3 separate regions of the Homo sapiens genome follow, and regions 1 and 2 are each linked to region 3. Evidence: fine-mapped expression QTL. A gene starts in region 3. Each other region holds a variant in brackets. All regions are shown on one strand. Distances are between the middles of the regions.

Evidence for each region.
Region 1: its variant is fine-mapped to the expression of SLC44A3 in tibial nerve (GTEx, PIP 0.97).
Region 2: its variant is fine-mapped to the expression of SLC44A3 in whole blood (TOPMed, PIP above 0.99).

What each region holds. Positions count from the first base shown.
Region 1 is chr1:94,764,127-94,772,309 of GRCh38, forward strand. The region is part of intron 1 of SLC44A3-AS1 (SLC44A3 antisense RNA 1); the gene reads right to left. Among named protein-coding and RNA genes, the nearest start is that of MIR378G, 22 kb to the left of the region's middle. The variant C/G (reference allele first, on the strand shown) is at 3,354.
Region 2 is chr1:94,842,404-94,850,586 of GRCh38, forward strand. SLC44A3 (solute carrier family 44 member 3) reads left to right here. Exons shown (of 15, transcript NM_001114106.3): 9 at 2,875-3,061. Among named protein-coding and RNA genes, the nearest start is that of SLC44A3, 26 kb to the left of the region's middle. The variant G/A (reference allele first, on the strand shown) is at 4,610.
Region 3 is chr1:94,816,597-94,824,779 of GRCh38, forward strand. It overlaps SLC44A3 (solute carrier family 44 member 3), which reads left to right and starts at 3,761. Exons shown (of 15, transcript NM_001114106.3): 1 at 3,761-3,882; 2 at 4,353-4,460; 3 at 7,897-8,039. The coding sequence starts at 3,856. SLC44A3-AS1 (SLC44A3 antisense RNA 1) reads right to left here and starts at 3,636. Exons shown (of 6, transcript NR_160780.1): 1 at 3,360-3,636. RefSeq lists a silencer at 3,765-3,954.

The sequences.
Region 1 (8,183 bases), 52 kb before region 3:
CTACTCTAAAGACACATGCACACGTATGTTTATTGTGGCAGTATTCACAATAGCAAAAACTTTGGAACCAACCCAAATGTCCATCAATGATGGACTGGGTTAAGAAAATGTGGCATATATACACCATGGAATACTATGCAGCCATAAAAAAGGATGAGTTCATGTCCTTTGCAGGGACATGGATGAAGGTGGAAACCATCATTCTGAGCAAACTATCACAAGGACAGAAAACCAAACACCGTGTGTTCTCACTCATAGGTGGGAATTGAACAATGAGAACACTTGGACACAGGGTGGGGAACATCACACACAGGGGCCTGTCATGGGGTGGGGAGTAGGGGGAGGGATAGCATTAGGAGAAATACCTAATGTAAATGACGAGTTAATGGGTGCAGCAAACCAACATGGCACATGTATACCTATGTAACAAGCCTGCGCATTGTGTACATGTACCCTAGAACTTAAAGTATAATTTAAAAAAAGAAAAAAAAGTAAGTCAGATTACATAACCCTCTAATCAAAAGCTCAACAGCTTCCCATTTCACTATACAATTTGCTCCCATCTCCTAAAACGTCTGTCCTCACTTCCTACTATCCTTCCCCTCACTGACTCCCTTAGGTCCCACTAGAAGTGTTCCTAATACACACTGGGTCTCCTTCAAGTCCTTACTCAAATGTCACCTTGTGCATGAGGACCTCCCTAGTCACACTGTCACCCTGTCCTGCTTTATCTTCCTCCATAGCACTCCTCACCACTCAACATCATCTTAATTATTTACCTGGTTTATTTCTTGCCACTCCATACCACCACCTCCCTCACACACAGACAGTCCCACAGAACACATAGTCAATTGTTAGCTACATGAGGACAGGGATCTCTGCCGGTTTTACTCACTGTTGCATTCTTACTGTCTTAAACAGTACCTTGTTGGCACATTGAAGTTCATTTATAAACATTTGTTGAATACATGAATGGGAATAAATACTTTAGTTGAAGTAATATCATCTAGGGAGCCATGGGAGAATTTGAATCCAGGTCTTTTGCTCTAGCTTTTCTACCAAGTAATATCCATTAAAATATTTTCAGCTATAATAATAGAATACCCAAATAAAATAATGAAGATAAAGTACTATCTTACAAAACAAGATATTCTGAGGTAGGTGTTTTCATGGTTGATTACTTCAGTAGCCCAGTGATGGTATCAAGGCCCTAGGTGGGTTTTTTGTTTTTGTTTTCTTACCTTTTCTCATTGCCATCCTTACTTATTGTAGCATGTTGTATTTCTCAAAAAATGCCACACCTACATATTTATCTCATCGCACATAATTTTCACACAATGTGACTGGCAACTGACACTCCTCCCATTAAGGGAAGGGTCTGTGTTCTCTCTTCTCAAATCTAGGCAGGGGATTGTGACTGTCCCAGTCAATGGAGTGGGGCAGAAGTGATGCTATGTGACTCTTGAGGGTAGATCACAGAAAGGATACAGCTTCCACCTGGCTCTCTGTTTTCAGATGCTTGCCTCTGGAACTCAACCACCATGTTGTGAGGAAATCCAGGACACATGGAGAAGCCAACATAGAGAAAAGCTAAGGCCTCCCTCCAACGGGGAGCATCAGCTTGTCTGCCATGGAGTTAGCTATCTTGGAAGTGAGTCCTTCAGCCCCAGTCAAGCCTTCAGATAGTTACAGCTCCAGCCAACATGTGATTGTAACTTCATGAGAAATCTCCAAGCCAGAACTGCTCTCAAATTCCTGACTCACAGAAATCATGGGAGATTATTATTATTGTTGTTTTAAGCCACTACATTTTGGAGTAATTTGTCAGAGAGCATTGGATAAATAACATACTTTGCATATTGTCCTTGGGTTTATCCCTTCATAGTTAAAGCATGGCTTCTTTAGCTCCTGATAGCACATCATCTTTTCAGGTAAATACAACAATATTTTGGATACAGAATTCAATTAATCTGCATAGTTGACATCAAGAAACTAGTAACTTCTGAATCCAAATCTTGATCCAGGATTGCATCACTAAGAGCTACAGGACTGGCTAGATGTTTATACTCTTTTTAATCAAAAGCAGGAAGCTACTCTAAAATACTTGAGACAATTCACTTATCTTTACCACTAGTAAGTTCACGAATGAATTTCTGTTTGGAGCATCCACTATGCTAAGAAGCCACGGATTTCATCAACGGAAACCTATTTCTAACATTAAGTATGCCAGTTAGCAGAGCCTCTACCATTGATCATAGATAAAGGTCATGGGAGCTCTTGTAGTAGCTGCTTCTGGAGTACAGTTTTCCTAATTCGAATGCTGGCTCTCCACCCTAGGGTGCAAATTCCCAATTTGGGCAAATGACTGTACCTAAGGTATAATGTAACCCATAATACACACATGAGATCATGATGCTTGTGATGAAGTATATTCAGTTACAGACAGTTTTATACCCAACCTGGCTTTCTTACATTTAGTTCATTCTCACCTCCCCTTTCAAGCACTCTGTCAATCTCAGTATTAATTTTCTCTCACTTCTGAGGAGTCCCATCCACTCAAACACAGGAATGGGTTTCCTTTCTGATATTCCTGCCAGTATACGTTCCAGAGACCTTGTTTTGGCTCCTGTGTCAGCTCAGTGCTTGCCTATTTCCCAAGGAAGACAGTAATCCTTGTAGACAGTTCAGTTCAATCCTATATTAAAGAAGGTTCAAACCTATATTAAAGAAGGACATATGCTATATTTCTTTAACTGCCTCATAATTTGCAATTAGAGTCAGTAACTCTCATAATGGCTGAGGCTGCTTGGAGCCTGCTGGATTAAGACCAGGATCATATTATTTTTTAATGGCTGCCTTTTGGGTTTTACAAGAAAGACACTGAAAAGATAACGAATACATTACATTCCCATCAAATATCCATGTTCTCCTCAGTCTCCATCTGGGGATAGATAGGAAATGCCCTATTCTCTCAGTGGCAGACATCAGCCAAGGTTTATCAAGCCATATGGATACATGGGCATTTACTAAGGAAGGTGGAGATGCCAATAAAGCAGGGGCTATGAAGGTTAACCCCAGGAGAGAGCCTGGATTCCAGGCCACTGCTGCCAACACTGTGATCCTAAACATGCTCCTTAACCTTTCTTGGCCCCTACATTTCCTTTTCTATAAAACAAAAGGTCATGAGATCCCTTCTAGCTGGAGAGGCTATTTCTGGCTACCTAGAGTTGTCACTTCTGGGCAAACCTGGTATTGCTGCCCTCTTTGTTGTTTCCATTTTTTATTTCCCTCCTCCCTCCTTTTTTTCCACAGAGTACCTACTATGATCTCAGAACAGTCCCTGCCCTCAAGCA[C/G]TTCTCCACCTAGTAGAGGACATAGCAATGATAATTATTATAATCATTATTATTTTAATGAGAATAAACACTAAAATGCTAACTGCCAATATTTACTGGGCTCCCACTATAAGCCAGGTATTATGCTAAGTGCTTTTCATGCAACAGCTCATTTAATTTAATTCTTGCAATACCCCTAAGAGGGATGAACTGTTATTCTACCAGTTTGTGTTTCAGGGAAGTCAAGTGATGCACCTCAAAGCCCATAGCTCTTGCCTGATAGAGCCTTTTGAACAAATAAAAAATCACAGTGCCACACGACAAGTGCTATCATACTGGCATGCACAAAAAGCAGTGAGCAGCTACCAAGAAGGAGAAAAAAAGATCCCTCCCTACATGAATCTGGAAAGACTCTTTGAAGAGGTATCATTGAAGAATAAGAGTAACTTTACCTGATGCAGAAGAATCTCATTGCAAGATTAGATTAACCCGTAACTTAGAAAGTGATGAAGAAATAATAAGTATCACTGTTTTCTAATAATATTACAGTAAAGGAGATGACTTGGGTTTTCATCTGGCTATGTGTTAATGTGGATGATGCACGTTTTTTCACAACATGCACGCATACAAAGATACCCACTTCATGGTTTCAATTATTGCTTCATTTCCTCCTTTGTGCTAAGTGATGCTGCCTATTTGTTGAAAGGGTACAAGAGTTCTCTTGTAGTCTTCTGCCTGCCCTTCCCCAATTTTCCAGTCTATGGGTTTGTTAATCATGTGGTGATTTTCCAGGACAAGAACTTGAAAGTACTCTACTTAAGATACGTTATAGAATAGATCAGGGAAAACCCCTTCACTTTCTAGGAACATTAACAGCTGCGTGAAGGCCTCAGAGAACTGTTCCCTCATTTAATTTCTGGCTTTGACTTATACCTAGCCACATATTTCAGAGTTTAAAAGTGTGGAAATGTGATGTTTTTCTGCTGAATATTCATGTCTTCTTTAGATAATAGGAACTCAGTTTTTCCTGGGGAACCACTTTTCCCCCAGTCTCAGTCCAAGGGCTTGAGAGTGGTTACCCCCGTCCTAGGCCTGGCCAATCAAGGTAATAGTCATGATCCATTCTGGGCTGCAAAGCATCAGCCTTGGAACTTTGCTTGGTCTTCTTTGCAGCAAATCTAGTGAGATATGAGCTTGGTACTACAGGTGCCCATCATTGCCACAGTTGAGTAGAGTCTACCGAAAATGAGGCTAACACAAGCAGCCTCCTGTGTGGACAGAGAGAAAGCAATGAAAGGCATTAACAAGCCTGAGCAGAAACACACTGTATTAGCCTCGTTCACTGCCAGAGGGGCCCCTGAAGGGGACACAGTGACACAGTATCTACTGATACTGCCCTTATTCAAGAGGTCAGTGCTGTCCTTCACCCCTACCTCATTCCCTACACCCTGGCTAGAATCTCATAACTCCTCCAACAACTTAAAATCACTCTCTCACCTTTGTGTTAGATTTCTGTTTCCAACTCTGCCCCTGTCCCCTGCCAAGACCCACCAGCCTCATGGCAGAGACATCTCTTCATGTCCCAGCAAGTACATCTGTGTGGTCAGTCAGGAACCCTCTCAGGGCCAGTTGCAGCCCTTCCATCACCAGGTGACCCTATCTTATGACCAGAGAGCCTTAGACTTTCCACCTTCCCTTGAGGCCCCACGGTCTTCATGCCAAAGAATAAGGTGCCAGGCTTCTCCCTGGACATCCATGGCCTCAATACTAGTGCTGTCTGAGACTACTGGCTCCTCACACCAACCCCCAATCTGCAGAAAAGCAGGTTGGGATGTCTGAATGAGTCTACATGAAGGATATTCCTTCAAATGTGCATCAGCGTGCATGAGGCTGTTTGTTCTGTAAGATAGCCCAGCCATATCCCAGAGCTGATTAAACAACAATTATGCCACAAATATTATACCCAACATTATGATCTTCTAGGATAATACCCTGATTGTCTCTGAACCTCACTGAATGTCATGGTTGCTGGTGACCCACTGTGATGTTTCTGGGCCACATTCTATGTAGCTAAATTGTTTGGGATATTAACATACCTGGAAGGACCTTTCCCCAGTCCATTAAAAATCCTCTAGTCTTTTTAGGCCACTTAAGGAAGGGTCATAGCTAGCATGGTATGGTCTACAAACTTCAAGTCTACATTCCTGACATGACACCACCCTTCCTGGTAGGAACCAGCCACAAGAAGAAAGGCCACTCAGGTTTCCTAGCAATGCCTTATTTTGGACACATTCCAAGACAGCCACAGTCAAACCAAAGTTTCGGGCAGGTCTCAACTAAGACTGGTTTGTATTTCCAAAGTCACTTATAAGCCAAGTCCTGGGACCCAGAATGTATTTTCCCATGGAAACAGTGACATAGACTATAACAAAGTCATCATGCCAAGCCACAAGTGCCTACAGCTATCATGGTGCCAAGAGCACTATTTCAATAACTCCCAATCACTTTATGTAACATTGCTTCCATAGGAAAGCTCCAATTGAGTTTCAATCTCCAATGCAGGATTCTAGGAACACATTTCCAAGCCCCCACATTCATCTTGGCAGCATGAGAGAATTACCTCTTTTGATCAAACGTTCATTCATTCCCACAAATACTTATTGAAACTCTATTTTTCATGAGCCACTGCTCTAGGTGCTGGGGATACAACAGTGAACAAAAGTCACCCACAAAGTTCTGAAGTGGAAACACAAAGTGATCTGATACCATATTGGCCAGCATAATGAAGGGAGGGTCATCTTACTGTTTCTTCCACAATGGCCAGTGAGTTCCACAGGTGAATTTCCATTTTCACCCTAGAATACAGAAATGCAGACTCTTGGTTTCCTAGCTTAACAATGATAAATCTAGTCTTCACTTTGCATTCTATTTTTCAAATTTAGCTGTTGACACTCAAATTGATTAGAAGAAAATCATCAAGATAAGACACATTCTCTCTTCTTCCATGTGGCAAAAAAGGACCCTGGGGACACATTGAGTCTTAACTGAGCTTGACAGGCTTCCTTGGAAATTTTGAAGGGTTTGGGGAGAAGGGGAGGAGGGTAATGCCCCCATGCCAATGGAACCACCAGACCAGTGGATTTCCAGTCAAACCAGATGGCAAGAAAGGAGCTGCATTCTTCTGCTTCCCAGCTGCTCTTGGAGACTCTTCCAGGTAAGTTAATCTGGAATCTGTTTACCTCTCTAACATTTGCTTACTTCCGTAGCACACTGAGAATTCTGCTGCCAAATTGACTGTAGATTGGAGTTTGCACACTTCACTCTTTACTACCACTCATGTATTCACCCAGAGCACTTAAAGACTTCCCAAATTTAAAGGGATGTTTTCTAATTTTCAAGTACTTATTGTCCCTTATAAAGTGATCTTGTAAGGTTTTTTTCCCCCTTCTTGGTCTATGTTTAATGGTTTTTTGTGATTGAAGCAATGGGGAACAACTCTTCCTTACAGCGAAGAAAACAAACTCCAAGAGTAGTAAATCTTCATGAGACTTATTCCTTCTCCTTTTCCTTCTTAATAGGTTTATTTATCTGGATTAAAACTCACATTAAGCTTTTTTTGGAGGGTATTTGCAAAAGGCCTACACTAATAACAAGTGACTTTCCAATGGCATTATTAGATTATGAGCTTCCTTGGAACAGGGAGTATCTTTAGTTCTGCTGAAGAGTGCAGGATGAAAGTTAGACAAAAAATAATAATAATAATAACACATTTAACAGTTATGCAGATATTGCTCAAAAACTGGCTTTTACTAGCAGGGTGGCACATTTCTCTATTGACCTGATATCAGAAAAAGCAAAGCAGTCTTTTAAAGATTCAGACAAAATGTTTCTGGAATACATCTGTTGAAGAACATGGGAGAGGATAATTATATTAGTTGTATTAGGAAATAATAAATTCGACCTGCAAATATATAGAGTATTTAAAAATTCTTTCTTGATAACTTTTATTCCCATGGAGAGTAATTTTCCCAAATCCACTGAAATGAGTTCACATAACTCAATGTTTGTAAATAGCATCCCTCTGATCTCCTACAGAGCAAGTGGAACTGTATTCCAACCCCAGGGCCAGAAACTTGAGACCATGTGCCAGTCCATGGCACCAGAGTCCGGTCTGTCCCCATCTCTATGGCCACTGGTGCAAACATCAAGAGGAGAAGTGGAGGTGGATGGGCCTCCTCTTCTTTTTTTACCCTCCCATGGGGATGGGATGTAAAAGTGGGACCAGAAGAAGACAGAAATAAACAAGTGTTCTCCTGTTCCCTTTAGGAGTCTGAACATGGAAAATAGAGGCCCAGAACCTGCCAGAAGACAGCAGTTTCTGGCAGACATCCAGGAAAGCCCTCTTGTTGTGTCTTCAAAGGCAAAGTGTCACCTTTTCTGGTCTGCAGGGCTTATAGTCAATTTGACTCCATGCTTTGCCACTTTCTAGCTGTGCGACTTTGGAAAAGCAACTGAGCCTCACTCTTTTCCTTTATAAAATTCAGAATAATATAAATTTTACCACTTAAGGCCAAGGATTGAATGAATTAACATTTGTACAGCATAATAGAGGCACCATATATGTGGCACATAGTAAGCATGCCAGAAAGAGTAACTAGTATTGGGTTTTCCTTACATAAAATTACAAAGCCTATACTTTATTCCCCAGGTTGGAGAAGACGCTTTTCCATTTAAGCCCAAGAGATGCAGAGATTCAGCAGTTTATTGGCAATGTTTTGTACATGGCGTGATGGTCAGTAAGAGAATTCTAGCCTCTATTCAAAGTGTTAGACTCTGAAAACAAGTTTGGCT
Region 2 (8,183 bases), 26 kb after region 3:
ATGGTGGGTGGGCGGAGGCAGGCTTACGGCAGTTCCCATTCCCTGTTTGTGAGGTGCGGCTCCCCTTTGCCAGTGTATGCTCAGCTTCCGCTGCCCTCTAGCACACAGAGCCCTTTGTTTCCAAACCCGCTGGCCACTGGGTTATTTTGGTGTTCAGAGAACTTGCTGCCTCCTCAGTGAACTCTCTAGCTGAAAACAGGCTGACTTAGAATATTGAGGGAGCAGGTATTAGTTACTGGTGGTGGGTGGTTGGCAACCAAATGTCATTCAGGACCCTCTCCAGGGGCCGTTAGGAAGGCTCAAATCACAAGGCCCTGGGGCGGACCCCACACTGGCTTCAGGTCCCCCAGAGTCGTCGTTGCTGGTGTGTTGCTTACTGACTGTTCTGTGGAGCAGCTGCAGCCAGGGGTTTCCACAAGCCCATTGAATCTTGCAGCAAATGCAGATTCTCACACCAACAAAATTCTCTCATAGGAAATCCTTCTATTCTCATATTTGGTAGTTTTCACATTTTCTCCTTTCCACGGTGAGGTTTTGGGTTTGTGATCTTCACATAAAATGTGCCAGGGAGTAAGGGTACAATAAAGTAAAGCACCTGGTTGCTCTCGCCTCAGGCAGGGACCAGACCAGACACTCAACAGAGTCTGCAGAGGAGGCTGGAGATGAAAGGGCTTCCCCATTCCCCAGGCTGGGCATAGGGGAAGAGGAGCAGGGCTGGGGGCTGGGGAGGGTCCAGTTCCTCCGTCTACCCTCCACAGGGCTCCCTTTTTGTTTGTACACTGCACCATTTATGCCACCCAGATTTCAGGGCCGGGGCAAGGTTAGGGAGAGGGGAGGCCATGTGAGCAGGGAGGCTGTTTTCACCTGGGTCCATGAGTTCTGCACAGGGGCTACTCTATAAGGCAGAATTGAGTCCCAGCTCACCTCCCGTTCATTTGTTGTGAGTTCTTACCAATTCCCGGTTGCTAGATGAGCTAGTTCACTCATCCTCAGAAAAGCCCAGATGGAAGTTCCTCCTCAGCCTTTACAACTGAAGGGTCTCCTCTGGGTGTCTTGCGGGGCCTCTCCTGACACCTCTCCCTGCATGGTCAGGAGGCTGTGCTCCCAGATCCTGGAGCAGCTTCTGCAGTTTATCCACTGTCACTGTCTTTCCTCCACTTGACTGTTGACGGCAGAAACGCTCCAGCAAAGCTGGAAGAGAAAGAGCATCTCAGGCCAAGGGCACAGCATGCATGAGGTCACATGGGCAGGGGTGTGACTTGCAGGAAGTTCCCTTGATGGAAGCCTGAGATGCAGGTGCAGGGAGGGTCATGTCACAAAGGTCCTGATCTGCAATGATGATAGGTTTGATCTTTCTCCAGAGGCACTGGGGTGCCGTAGATGGATTTTGAGCCGAGAAACACCATCTTTGTGTTTGCGCTTTACAAAGGTCCCCTTAGCTGTGGAGTGGAGGAGGGACTGAGGTGGGGCGGGGTGGGGGGGGTGGTCAGGGAGGTTAAATGCAGAAAGCTAATGAGGTTATTGGGGTCTAGAAGAAAGAGGCTGAGACTTGAGCTGTGGCATCAGCGGTGGAAACAGAGAGGAAAGGAAGGCATGAGCGGTATTGAGGAAACTGAACCAGAGGTGATTGAGACTGTACTGGGCACTTTGCCAGTCCTTGACCATAAGAATGGCCCTGCTCTCTAGGAGCCTAATCTAATGGGAAATTCAGACGAGAAAACATTTATAGAATATGTTAAATAGTACAATAGGGTAAGTGTGGAATAAAATGGGAGCACACAAGAGGGGAACCTAACTTACTCTTGGAAAGTCTAGAAAAATTAGGGCCACTGGAGGTAAAGAATACAGGGGGAAGAGGAGGTTCTAGTATGAAGATAATGAATTTGATTCAGGATAAATTGAGTCTGACATACTGTAGGACATCCACGGCCTTGTCAATAACTGATGTGCTTATTCTTCCAGCACCTAGAGGAAAGTGAGGCTGGAGGTTTTTATTTGGAGGTTGTCAGCATCTAGGAAGGATGCTGAAAGCACAGAGGAATAGGAGATACCCCCAGAAGATCTCAAGAAGCAGCAATTAAAGAAGTAGGAGAGCTAAAAGAAAGATCATGGAAGCCAAGGGAGGAAAATGTTTCGAGAAAAGAGGAGTGGACAAGGGATCTAATGCTATGCTGAAGTCAAGCAAGACCTGGAATGTTTCCATGGCATTTAACATTCAGGAGGTCACATGAAGTGACTTCAGAGAGAGCTGTTTCAAAAGAGTGTTGGGATCTGGATGTTTGTGGGTGGTTGAAGAATGAGTTGGGGTATGGAAATACAGATGATGGGTGTAGACAAGCCAAGAAGCTCGGCCATGAAAACAGTAAGAGACGGCAGTGGCTGGATGGGGATGGAGGGGTGCAGAATGGTTTGTTTCATTAATATGAGATTTGTAAATGTTTATATGCAGGGAGGGAAAGCTAGAAGAAGGCACAGAAGGTGGCTTTGAGTCTTTTTGCCTCATACTCATATTCCCTTGACTTTTGCAATATCTTGGGTTCTGTGGGATGTGGAGGGGAGGATATAAGACAGTTCCTTGACATTAGAAGACCTTATTCTCATTTTATCTTTTTCACTGACCAGACTACAAGGCCCTTTATGGAGGGACTGTGTCTTCTTCGCTATTATGTCTATTAAGATCTATTCCAGGGACCAGCACTTACTAGATGCTCAGTTAGTGTTTGCGAATGCATCTGTAAAATTATAACAAAGTAGTGAGTAACTATCTTAAAAGAGCTGTTTGCTGAGATGTCATAATAATAGTAGGGCTTGCTTTAAGCTCTACCCAGTTCTCCATTATTTGGAAGTAATTTACTCAAATCCCTTTCTCACCAGGCAGTGCTGCTCGTCTTGATTTTTGTTCTCAGAAAGAGAATAAAATTGACAGTTGAGCTTTTCCAAATCACAAATAAAGCCATCAGCAGTGCTCCCTTCCTGCTGTTCCAGCCACTGTGGACATTTGCCATCCTCATTTTCTTCTGGGTCCTCTGGGTGGCTGTGCTGCTGAGCCTGGGAACTGCAGGTAAGGGACAGTGGGTGTGGGTTCCATCACCTTGGAGTCATACACAGAAGACCATTTTGGAACCACTGGCCTGTTTCTGTAGGCACCTAACCCCTCATTGAGCCAGAGGTGTCTGATGACAGCAGCGTTGGTGCTTGGGGCTCTGTCATGGGGAAAAGTGGGAAGTTCTTTTACCTCTTCTATATTGGTTTTAAAGAAGCTGGGTTTGTGTTTCATGAGAGAATAAATTCAGTAAGGACTGAAAGCTCTAGGAAAAACTACAATATGAACAAAGGCCAACAGCAAGAATATTACCAGATGTCTCCAGGTATGAGTTTTATCCAAGGTAATTTGCCAACCCCTATCAAATCAGTAGGTGACAAAGAAGAACCCAGGAAAGACTCTATTAAAAATATATTGTGCAGCCGGGTGCTATGGCTCATGCCTGTAATCCCAGCACTTTGGTAGGCCAAGGCAGGTAGACCACGAGGTCAGGAGTTTGAGACCAGCCTGACCAACATGGTGAAACCCCGTCTGTACTAAAAATACAAAAATTAGCTGGGCGTGGTGGCGTGCACCTGTAATCCCAGCTGCTGGGGAGGCTGAGGCAGGATAATTGCTTGAACCTGGGAGGTGGAGGTTGCAGTGAGCCGAGATTGCGCCACTGCACTCCAGCCTGGGTGACAGAGCAAGACTCTGTCTCAAAAAAAAAAAAAAAAAGTGTTATGCCCAGCAGAGCCAGTGTACATTTAAAGCAAACTCATAGTTCACATGCCTTGGTCCTGAAAAGACAAGATTCTCTCCTCCATCCTTTTTTCATATCCACACAGTGGTTCTTCACCAGGGCTATTTCTCAGAATCAGCTTTGGTGCTTTATTAAAATACAGTTATCTGGGTGCCAGCCTCAGAGATTGATTCACGTGGTTTGCGGTGGGACCTAGTATATGTTCTTGTAAAGCTCCGTAACAGGGCAAGCATATTCTAAAGCAGCACTATTCAGAGTGCAGTCTGAAGCCAGATAAGGAGCTTAGCTAGAATGGACGTCATTCCATTGCTTCCTTCATTGAGAAAGTTTTGCTATGGAAGAAACTGTCAGCTGAGAAACGATGTGCTTAGTGATGCAGTTGATCTACATTCTGGCACAAGCTTTTTATCTTACTAACAATGTGAGGTTAGACAGCTTTTCTGTGGACCACACTTTGAGTGGCACTGTCCAGATCTTTTCTAACTCCTCTGTTTGATTTTCTTAAGGCCCAAATTCAGTACACATGGATGCAAGTACAAAAGAGTAAGTGGCTTCCTGATACTGTCACCAGACTGATAAGGACCACAGCTGATGTCAAATCAGCAAGGCTGATGCAGTTCCTTAATGTTTTCTCAAGTTTATCTTGTCCCTTACTGGCTCCAGTCATATAAGTAAGAACAGCTGCCATGTAATAGATTCTTAGTAAACTCAGTCCCCTTCCTTCTCCTCTGGAGCTAACTGAGGCCACAGTGCCAAGATCGTCAGCAGGCTGCCTGGAAGGCATGGCCCTTGGAGGCCTATGTTTCCACCTTCAGAGGTGCATA[G/A]GGGCAGTCTTCTACTAGGGGCTCCCTGGAAGCTCGCTGAAGGCCTGCAGTGAACTTCTGATAATTACCCAGGGAGGAACATTGGTCAAAAGGGTATAATCCATCAGAATGAGGTTTGTCTGGAAGTGAAAGAAAACTCAAAACAACAGTGGCTAAAGTAGGATGTAAGGTAATTTCTCTGTCACACAGATGAAGTCCACATGGAGAGGATCCATGCCAGCCTAGTTCTCTAGCGCTCAAGGACTCAGGCACCCGCTTTCTTCTTCTGCAGCCTCTGCCCTTGCTTCCACCTCATAGTGAAAGGCTGCTCAGGCTCCCACTGCCATGTCTTATTCCGACCTTGAGGAGGGTGGCAGGGAGGAAAGCGAGCATGCCCCTCCCAGAAGTCACAGGTGGCGCTTCCACCCACACCTCATCAGCCAGGTCCCAGTTACATAGCAGTGCTTATCTGCAAGGGACACCAGGAAATGTAGTTTCATTTTGGGCAGGCACGCACCAATCAGAGGTTCTATAACCAAGAAAAGAGGGGAGAATAGATATCGTGAGACAGGTGAAGTCTCAGCATTGGATGGCCTTCCTCTAGCGAGCTTGAAGTGGGCTCAGCCCTGGTCAGAAGGGAGGGCAGTGGCCCCGGTGCATGAAGGGAAACAAGCCTTTGTTGAAAATGTCCTAGATTCTAATCTCTGTACTGGATGCTTTCTTATGTTCTGTCCCCCAGGCATCACAGTCCCCGTGTGATGTGGGTATTGTTATGTTCAAGTTACAGGCAGGAAAATTGAGATTCTGAGGAAGTCATGTGCCGGAGGTCATACAGCTGGGAGGCATGACGTGCTGTGACTCTAGAGCTTTGGAATGGAGCCTGTGCTCTTTCCACTACCTTACACCTCCCTTGCATCTGGGATCCAAAGCTAGGAAATAAAAATAGGCCTCTTTAGGCCGGGTGCAGTGGCTCACGCCTGTAATCCCAGCACTTTGGGAGGCCAAGGCGGGCGGATCATGAGGTCATGAGATCGAGACCATCCTGGCTAACACGGTGAAACCCCGTCTCTACTAAAAATACAGAAAACTTAGCCGGGCGTGGTGGCGGGCGCCTATAGTCCCAGCTACTCGGGAGGCTGAGGCAGGAGAATAGCATGAACCCGGGAGGCGGAGGGTGCAGTGAGCTGAGACCACACCACTGCACTCCAGCATGGGCCACAGAGTGAGACTCTGTCTCAAAAAAAAAAAAAAATAGGCCTCTTCAAGTTTGCTCAGAATGAAGCTGTATCAGGGACCACAGCAGTTGGCTGGTGGATGTGGGCTGTGCCCATAATGTGTCTGGGGCTGGAGGTTGACAGCTAGAGCCAGCTGGGGATGAGGTGTGATGGAGGTGGTGGCAGTGGCCCTGGGCAGCAGCACTGTAGGGCTTGAACCCTAGCCTCTAGAGAATCATCAGAGAAACAGTGAGGTCTTAGGAAATATGGCTCAGGACCAGTGAAGGACCCTCCTCTTCCCACCTCCTTAGGTGCAGCTGGCCCAGCCAGGGGGCCCCTTGTTGGCTGTGAATCTGGATAAGGGGAACTGTGTCTGTGGCTAGACCCCATGATGTTTTGGAGCAGGGATGGTTTTAATTTAATTCAGAAGTATTTGGTGGGCACTGTGGGGATGAGGCGCTGAGCACGGCACTAGGGAGAGGTAGGGAACAGGATTGAGGTCGACTCTCTGCCCTCAGTACTTATAGTCAAGCAGGATGGTCCAACAATGAAACGTGTGATCGCAGTGAAGATTGATGGATGTGATGATCAGAGAAATCTGGGGAGCTATGGGAACACCAGAACAAGGCCGTAACCCATGCTGTGAGTCAGGGAGGGCTTCTTAGAGGGCAGGCTGGAAATCGCCAGGTCAGAAAATACAGAAAGAGGCAAAGGGGGATGCAGCAGAAGTCAAGGCAGCACAAGGAGAGGACCTGGCCACAGAGGTCAAGGGAAGAGCCCAGGCCAGTGAAGTCAGAAAGGAGCAAGCCCCAAGGCTGACTTGGGCATGAACTGCCAGCCTGTGCCCCTTAACTGCCAGCCTGTGCCCCTGACTAGGTCTAGGTTGGGCCCAGGGCTTAGTAGCCTCCACTGCAAGAGAGACCTGGAGGTTATTCTTCAGGGCTGAAGGTAGCGTGTCATTCTGCAGCCACCTCTCAGGATCACACAGTGAAGTGTGACGATTCACTGTTAGTGCAAGCAGCAAACAGCGAGAACAGTAGAGGGGCCAGAAAGGAAACTGGGTGCCCCGGACCTATGGGAGGCATCTATGAGCAGGTCGATTTTAGGCTTCTCAGGAGAGAAGGTGCTACGCAGAGCCACCACCCCCCTTCCCCACCCCGCTGGGGTCAGGCATCATAGAAACCAAATCACCCGTCCCCTCCTTCCACCTGCCTGTGGCCGACCCAGGTGCACAGGGTCCCCTTTGTTCTCAGAGGCCTTTTCACCAGTGCCAGAGAGCCTGGCTCTGCGGCTGGGCAGATCAGCAGCTGAATCACTTTTTGATCTTCAGAAGATGCCCCAGCTAACACTTGAGAGGGACTCTGAGCCGCTTTCACCTCTTATGAAGAGGCGCCAGGTGATCGGGTGGCGAGCCCGCTGCACAGTGCCCGATTGTCTCATTCCACGTCCCACAGGCAGCTTCAGCGGGGACAGACACACTCTTCAGTTAGCGCCCAGTTTTGTGTGTGGGCGTCCTCAGTACATAAATAGTTGTTTGTTTGTTTTTGTGTTTTGTTTTTTGTTGGTTTTTGTTTGTTTGTTTTTCTTGAGACAGGGCCTCAATCTGTTGCTCAGACTCAAGTGTAGCATCAACCTCCCGGGCTCAAGCGATCCTCCCATCTCAGCCTCCCCAGTAGCTGGGGCTGCACATGCCACTATGCCTAGCTAATTTTTGTATTTTTTTGTAGAGACAGGATTTTGCCGTGTTGCCCAGGTTGGTCTAGAAATCCTGGGCTCAAGCAATCCACCTGCTTTGGCCTCCCAAGGTTTTGGGATTATAGGCGTGAGCCACCCAAATAGTTGTGTCAGATGGTTGAATGAATACTATTTTTTACTGCATTAAAAAAAATAGGAGTGAACTTGGGTTGATCATTTTTGCCCAGATGGGCTATTTTTCTAATGACTGTTAATCATTCTTTTGACTAGTTGACAAATTCTGACTTGTTTGGGGATTTTTTTTCAGCAGGTCATATCAAGCCCCCATCTTGCACCACCCAACAATGACATTTAGTAGTCCATTGGGATTTGTCTGGTACCAGCAATAAGACAGTAATTACTAAAATCCAATAGGAAAAAGTGAAAACTGTGGTAACCTTGGTAATCTGGTAGGTTGGAAAGAGCTCAGATGACCTGGTCACCTCCAGTGTTCATTAAGGTGGTCTGGAAGCTCCAGAGTCTGTACAATAGAAGAGAACCATATTGGATTTTGGCAGGGAGTGGACTTCCCGCGAGGTCTGTGCTGCAGTTAGAAGATTTAATCACAGGACTGCACACAGCATACACCGTGTACTTGGGATACACAAAGGGGTGAGCTTGGAAAGGAGGCAGCAGGGTCAGACAGA
Region 3 (8,183 bases):
GGGTGTAAACACCAGGAGGTGGAAATCATAGGGGCCTTAAAATCTGTCCACCACACATACTGTTATTCATTACTTCTAATTTTATTGCACTGTGAAATTTATTGAGCCTCCCTTTAAGATCTAATACACAGTTTATGTTTTTACTTTAATGTTTCACATGTACCTGAAAAGAGAAAGGACATGTATTCACTGTTTGATGGAAACGTATATGAGTTATAAATATCTAATGGCTCAAGTTTATTAATTAAATTGTACAGACCTTGTATATTTGCTTTCTGTGTGTATGTGTGTTGGGAGAGGAGAGGAAGTATCTACTGTCTACTTGATCTATTGGATACTGAGAGGAGCCAGTTAAAAATCTCCAACTATAATTCTGATTTATCTGTTTCTGCCTAAATTTCTGTTAGCTGCTGCTTAATAAATATTAAAGCTGTATTGTTGGGCACATTTATGACCTCCCTTATGAACTTTCTATCTTAAGTTTTATTTTGTCAGGTTTTAAAATTACTACATGAGCTTTCTTTGGTTCACATTTGCACTATATCCTTTTCAAGCCTTTTAACCTTTTAGTGTCTGTTTTACACAAGTTTCTTGTAGAAAACATATTGCTGAATCCCTTGCTTTCATTCAATTTGAAAGACTGTTTTTCTTAATTGGTTAGTTTAAGCCACTTACATTTATTGTAATTGCTGCTCTATTTAGGAGGCAGCATAGAATAGCTCTAAGTATGGTTCTAAGTATGGGTTCTAGATCCAGACCACCTGGGTTCAGGCCTTGGTTCTGCCACTTTCTAGCAAGTTAGTTAATCTCAGTTTCATCATCTATAAAATGAGGATGATGAAAGTAATAGTACCTTCCTCATAAGGTTATTATGAGGATCAAATAAGAAACACCCAGAAAAGTATCTGGAACATATTAGGTACACTGAAAGTAAAAATTATTATTAGTAATTTTATTTCTGCTATCAAATTTCATATATTCTAATTATTGCACTTTCTTTTTATTCCTTTTTCCTCTGCTCTCTTGCCTTTCATTTGATAAAATTTTCTTCCACTGCTTTAAAAGTTACATGTTTTATTCTTTTTTAACGGTAGTTACCCTTAAGACCTACATTCACAAATATTTATCCCTATTGATTTATTAAAGTTAACAATTTTTTTCGTCTTCCTCCCATATGATAGTAATTTAACCCAGTACTACTCTAAGTACTCTAAGTAGTACTGGGTTACTTATCTCATCCATTCCAGAATGAGATTTGAGCCCACATGTAAATCAACACACAGCTTCCTTCATTGAGAAAGTCTTGCTACGAAAGTGTCAGCTGAATCAAAGAGTTTGCTTATGACATAGCTGATATGCATTCTGGTACAAGCTCCTTATCTCTTAGAGAACAATTAAGTTTTGTGAACCACCCTTTGAATGGCACTATTTTAGATCACTGTCCTATCATTTTGGCCTCTCATTCCTGAGTCCCACACCCCTCACAATATTGATATTGTCTATAATTTTAGGTCTGAATCATTATAAATACACTGTTCTTTGTTTTTAGACTTTTGAAAAGAGTTTTTGTAAGTCAGGTTTAATGAAATACAGTTTACATACAATAAAATTCACCTTTTCTAGTGTACAGTTCTACAAATTTTGACAAACAGATACCACTGGGTCATCAGTACCATTCTCAAGATAATGGAATATTTCCATCACTTCAGAAAGTTTCTCCAGATTCCCTTCACCCCCAGCACCTGACAACCATTGATCTATTTTCTGCCTTTTCCAGAATGTCACATAAATGGAATCATAGAGTAGCTTATTATATCTGACTTTTTTTCACTTAACATGCATTTGAGATCATCCATGTTTTTGCATATGTAAGAAGTCTGTTCCTTCTTAATGCTTAGTTGTATTTCATCGTATAGATGCATCACAGTTATGTATAGCCACCCACCAGTTCCTGGACACTTGGGTGGTTCCTGGTCTTTTTTCTAACACAACAATAAATTCAGCCTAAATATTTGGCCACTCTCATGCTATATCTATTGTATCATCTCCTGAATTTGTTTCTCTTCTTGCTTGATTATGTCCTCCAAGAATGTCATTCAAATGAATCTTTCATAAGAATATTTTTATTATTAATACATTCTCACATTCTAATGACAATATGGCTTAATAGAAAATAAGTTCAAAGTTATGCTTTTAAATACTTACATATAGAAACATTTTGCTTGAGATAAACCTTTTCAATCTGAAGGTTTTTTTCTACCTTGAAATTTATCTCCATTATATCTTCAAATATTTCCCCTTCTCTGTTTTTATATTTCTTCCTTTCTGTTCTAGTTTTACCCTAGATATAAGCTAGAAAATTTACAAATAAGCTAACTTGTTTTTTAAAACATTTTCTACTGCCTCTGGAGGTTTGCTGAAAGTGCTCTTCCAATTACTAATTCATCGTCAGCTGCATCTTTTAGACTATTGCACATTACTAATACGTAGCATCAATATTCATTCTAATTATTATTTTTATGCTTAATATGTTTTAGTTTCATATTTTTTCCTGATTCATATTGCTAATATCATAACTCATTTTAAATAAATTTATCATGCTTATTTAAAAATCTTGGTCCATCTGCTCTACTGATCAGTTTCAGATGGCATATGTTATTCAGTTGTGGTCTTTTAACAGTAGTTGCACTCCTCCAGTGTCTAATTCTTTGTCCTATGAATTCATGTTCCCCTGGGGTTTCACCTACTCTGTCTGATAAACATGCATCCAGGAAGGCCCAGTGAGTTTGCAGTGGGAGGGTGGTGTGAGCCCAGAAGGAAATCGCTGGCACCAGAGAACCACTGTCTATCATTCCCAGTTTCTCCCACTTACCCAGATCTTTCCTCCAGTCAGGTTTCTACCCTTAGGGAGAAGCAGCACCTAAAGGAAGCAATTAACCTAGCAACCCTAAGGGTGGCAGGGGGAAGGGTAGAGGCTTGATTGAGAGGAGGTGGGGGGAGGTCGGCCTGCAGTTTTTTTTGTTTTTCGTTTTTTAAATTCCTCACCCCAACAGTGCTTTTGCGCTGGTCTGACACTACCTGGAAAACTATGCCACCAGTCGCTTCAGTGGACACTACCATTTCAATTGCGAAGTCAGGCAATGATTGTCCTAAGGCAAGGTGGGAGAGAAGTCAGAGTAAACCACCTCGAGAGCGCCGGTCTCCCGGAGTGTCTGGGTTCGACTCCTGCCTCCACAACTTACTGGGTCTCCTCGAACAAGTTGCATCACCAATGGCCGTGCCTCAGTTTCCCTCCTCCGTAGATTAGGAATAACAATAGCAGTGAGAACAGAATCCAGCACACAGTAAATGCTGCTTACCTGTTTGCTATGTGGAATACGCCACTACACTGTTGCTCGGCCCTCAGGAAGGGTCTGCTGAGACTTTCTACTTCCTGCTCAGGGCAGAGGCCGACCACCCGCCCAAGGTCGTGGCGGCGCCGGCTCAGCTTTAGTCGTCAAAGTGCACATCCTGGGAGCCGCTGCCTCGAGGTGGTTGAGGCGAGAGGGCAGGGAAGCGTCTGAGCCTCTTCCTCCCACCAGAGCAGGACCCCAGCTGACAGCGGGTGAGCTGGGCAGAAACCCATGCCGGGAAGAGGCGGACCCAGTGGACCGCAGCGCCCGCAGTCGCCGGGCCAGGCGCAGAGGCGAACGGGAGGCGGCGCTGCACCGTGCCCGCCCCTCCCCGGCCCGGCCCCGGCTCCAGCCCCAGCCCCAGCCCCAGCCCCGGCCCCGGCCCCGGCTCGCGGGCGCTGCGTCTCCGCGTACAGGAGGCGGCGGCGGCTCCCAGTCACCGGCCCCCGCCGGCGAGCGCACGATGCACTGCCTGGGCGCCGAGTACCTGGTAAGCGCTCGCAGCCTCGGCCCTCGGGGGAGGAGCCCCGGGGAAGGGTCGAGTCCCCCGCCTTCACGCACCTTCCCTGCCGGACGCTTCCGCCTTTCCCGCGCCTCGGGGATCCCGCCCCCGCTTAGTACCTTGGGGCCACCTGGCGGGGAGGAACCTGGACCCTGCTCCAGTGCTGGGGCGGAGGCGGGGGAGACGCGGGCCGCGGGGCGCAAACTTGGGGTCGTCCTCAGGTGCACCTCCAGGTAAGCACTTGGCGGCAGGGGGCTTAACATCCGCTCCGCGCAGAGCAGGTGTTTCAAAGGCTGTGTGAAAGAGCTTCAGGTGGCCACGTAAAAAAATAATATTAATTTTAAAAATTTAGAAAAAGATTGGTTACTTTGGCCCCTCTTCGAGTAGATTTGGGTTCGGTTTCCAGGTTGAGTCCACCTGTTTATCTTCTTTTTCTCAACTCTCCCTTTTTCTGGAAGGTTTCTGCAGAAGGAGCCCCTAGGCAAAGGGAGTGGCGACCCCAGATTTATAGGAAATGCACAGATACGGCATGGTTATTCCTGTTCTTTCTCTTTTGGACTGGTTTGGTAAGTGTGGGTGCTTGGTAGGAAAGAGGCCAGAGTGTGTGTGCACGTCTGGAAATAACTCTGTCCCAAATGTAAATCGTAGTTGGTGCTGCAGTGAGAGACTTCTGCCGTTAACCCACAATAAACATCAGTTTGTACTCGGGAGAATTCTTGTCCTAGACTCGCTAGAAAGGCTGTCTTTTTGCTACAGGCCATGTTCTAAGGGGTGACTCCATTAGGAAATGGGAATTAACAGTTTGCAATGTGATTGCTATTTAGTAAGGCCAATGTGTCTCCTTTTACTCTCCGAACTTACTGAACAGAAGTTCTTTTAGCACCTGCCACACCCCCAAATCAAATATTCCTCAAGCTTTTGGTGCACCTTTAACAAAGGAAAAGCCAGGGTAAGCCTAGAAATAAACTGCATTTCCTTTAGCTGAACATCACACACACACGCGCGCGAGAGATATGTTGTGTTTAGCAGCCAACACTGTTAACCATAGCTAACAAGGAATGATTTTTCCCACTCTAATTTCGAGGTATGTATGATTGCTGGTAAACTCCATCAGGCTATGCGGTTATAATCCTGAGAGAGTCTGTTGGAAGCCGAATCTTGCTGCTTTTATACTTATTTTAGAATTGTAGGTAACAGCAGAAAACGTCTCACCCGACATTTTCAAAGGCCACTTTCACGAAATCATCCATGCCAGGATAAGGCATGCTATTTGCTGCATGGTAAATGATTAATTTATAGAGCAGGGTAATAACTACCAGATAGTAATTACCTTTGTTGAAAAGAATTCCATCTGAATAGGCCCTAAAATATCATGTTTGTTCTTTCCAAGTAAGAAAGGCATTTGTTCACTTATGACCCGTTTCACATAGACAGGCTTGGTTACAGGCACAGTGGAAGGTTAGGTCTGAAACACATAATCAGATGTTTTTTGTTGCTTACGTTGGAACTCTCCCCTAGGAGCTGGGAGAGACAGTGCACCTACAATACCTTCTGCTTAACTTCGCAGATGGTTGGTGTTTTTATCTGAGACTGCTGTTGTATAAATGCAGGGAGCAGCTGGCCTGCCTTGTGCCTGGCAGCTTTGACCTCAAGCTGTTATTGTGATTTAATGATCTGCCGTAGCCCCTCCACAGCTTCAACCTAGGACCTCACTACCAAACTCTCAGCCCAACAGCTGAGAATCCTGGGGAAAATCTTTGTAGATGACCTATCACAGCCTGAAGAATTGTGAACCAGCTGAGAGGTGGCACGGAGCTGGAAACTGCTTTAAAATTACATTTCATTTGCAAAATAAGTCTGAAGTTTTAATATATCCAAGTTCTCACTATGGCATTCTGTTTTAAGAGTCAGAGTCCTTTCTTAGCTCACTGGCTTTTAGTGTCTTTTGCAACATTTTTTATTTGCAGGTATTTAAAACAGAGCAAGGAGTGTTTTGTTTTTGGACTTTTTTTTCTGCCTCTGTTGTTCAGCTTTCAGGTCTTGTGACAGATGTCCTGACTGGTGATGGTGTGCCCTGAGTTAGGGCTGGACAAAGGCTTGGGGGAAGGAGCTGAAATTATAAGCAGAGATGGTTCTTGCAAATGCAGCACCAGCCTGTGTTTATATTTGCATTAAACATAAGGAACAAAGTCTCAAAGTCTGGACTATCTCTGCCTCTACTTACCCCTCCAGTATCCTCTCCTGCCCTGCCTTTTCCTATCATCCCTCAAGATTCCATTTTCCTGATTTTGCAGGCACGGTTGACAGTGACTACCTTGGTGGCCAATGTACTAGACCAATGTACACACCTCCTATATCACCTGTCATATAGAATCGCAATTGCATGTTTGAAATTAGGACAATGAAGGTTTATAGTAGTAGTTTCTTGGAAGGCCGAGGCAGGAAGATCCCTTGAAGCCAGGAGTTCAAGACCAGCCTGGGCAATAAAGCAAGACCCTGTGTCTACAAAACATAAAAAATAATAATCATAAAGTCATAGTTTTATTAGGAGGGACTCAGGAATCCTCAGAAACCACTCCCACCTCTCCCACCCAGAAAAACTTTCCATTCTTCACCACAGGCTTTCCAAAGGAAAGAATGATGGTAAATGGAAAACATCACTTTGTTATTAGATTACTGGTGAGCTGGGCAGAAGCACATGACCCCTTTCCTCCCTCTAAATCCAAACACAGTCCAGACCTTACTACACTCCAACTCGAAAGGACGAGACAAGCATGTCAAGGCACAGTCAGCTTGCCATGCCAGCCACATTGGCAAACAGAGTCACACCTACTCCACAGCCTTTAGGTAAAGGGTGAGTGACACACACTACTAGCAAAGGTGACCCATTCATTCTAGAATCTGACCAGTTAGACTTAGGAGGATCTTGGAGAGTGGGAAAGGACAGGGAGCCTCCTTCCCCAGGAGGTCTGCAGCCCGTAAGTCCTGCTTGCCTTCTAGGCTGGGTTCCTGGAGGCAAGGAGTAGGTTCTGGTCATTCCTGTGTCTCCCAGTAAGAAAGTCTCAAGAACACACTGGGCACTTGAAGAATGTTTGTTATTTTGATTTCTAAATTAGTAATAAATGCAGAATGTCTAGAAGGTATTTGAATTTAGGACAATGTACCTTTGCAGCATAAGGTATCAATACTATATATTAATGAATAGTGTATTATATCTGTTCTCCTGGAATGAACTTGTCAATATAGAGTATTAAATGGTATCCTATATATTGCATACAGTACTGGGAAACTTACTAAGTTTGCATTATGGGAAGATACATATTCAATCTTGGCAGAGAGCCTGTCAGTATGTATTAATGGCACAGTTGTTTGAACTGAAATTTCAAATATTCCACATTCACTATGAGAGTGGATAAAAATGATGATAGATTGCAAGATGTTCTTGTCCAACAGAATTCCTGTGGTCCTTTATTTTGTATGTCTTAAGCAGTTACTCCAAAACACTATTTGCAGATTGGTGAACAGTGTTTCAGTACATATCAACTGTGTTGCTTCTGCAGAATCCCTTAAAAGTAAGAAAAGAAAAACAAAAAAAGTAGTAGAAAAAAAAAAAACCTTGGGGAAAGAATTAGCATAGCCCTGAAGCAGTTAAATTAAGCAAGAACATCAAGGGAAGAAAAATTGAATTGTCCCAGTAAAGTTAGACCAAAAAGAAAAATGATAGACTCTTAAGGAAAAGGTTAAAAAGCACAGAGGTAAGAAAATGGAGAGAAATCTGTTTCAGTGGATTAGATTCTCTCTCTACCTAAATGTATAAGTAGCAGAGGAGCAGGATGCTGATAGATGGGAGTTGCTGACACTGTTACTGACGGAGCAAAGCGCTATGATGCTGGAGAGCTTCACGTTCCACCAGGCTCCGTTTTATATCAGCATCTGCAGGGGTGTGGGGCACTGTGCGCTCAGCCCTTTGGCCAGGCTCTCATATGCCCCCGTTTTTGCCAGGTGTTTATCATGGGCTACTCGGTGGTGGCTGGAGCCGCGGGAAGACTCCTCTTTGGCTATGACAGCTTTGGCAACATGTGTGGCAAGAAGAACTCCCCCGTGGAAGGGGCCCCTCTTTCAGGGCAGGACATGACCCTAAAAAAGTAAGTATCTAAATAAGTCCCCAGTCTGTAAGGAACTGTACCTCAAAACTTTGTATAAATTCATCATTTGGAGCCTGGAAACTTTTCCCATTCAAAACTCTGTCAGCCTATTTTATAAAAAGGAAGGCTGTGTATATAGTACAG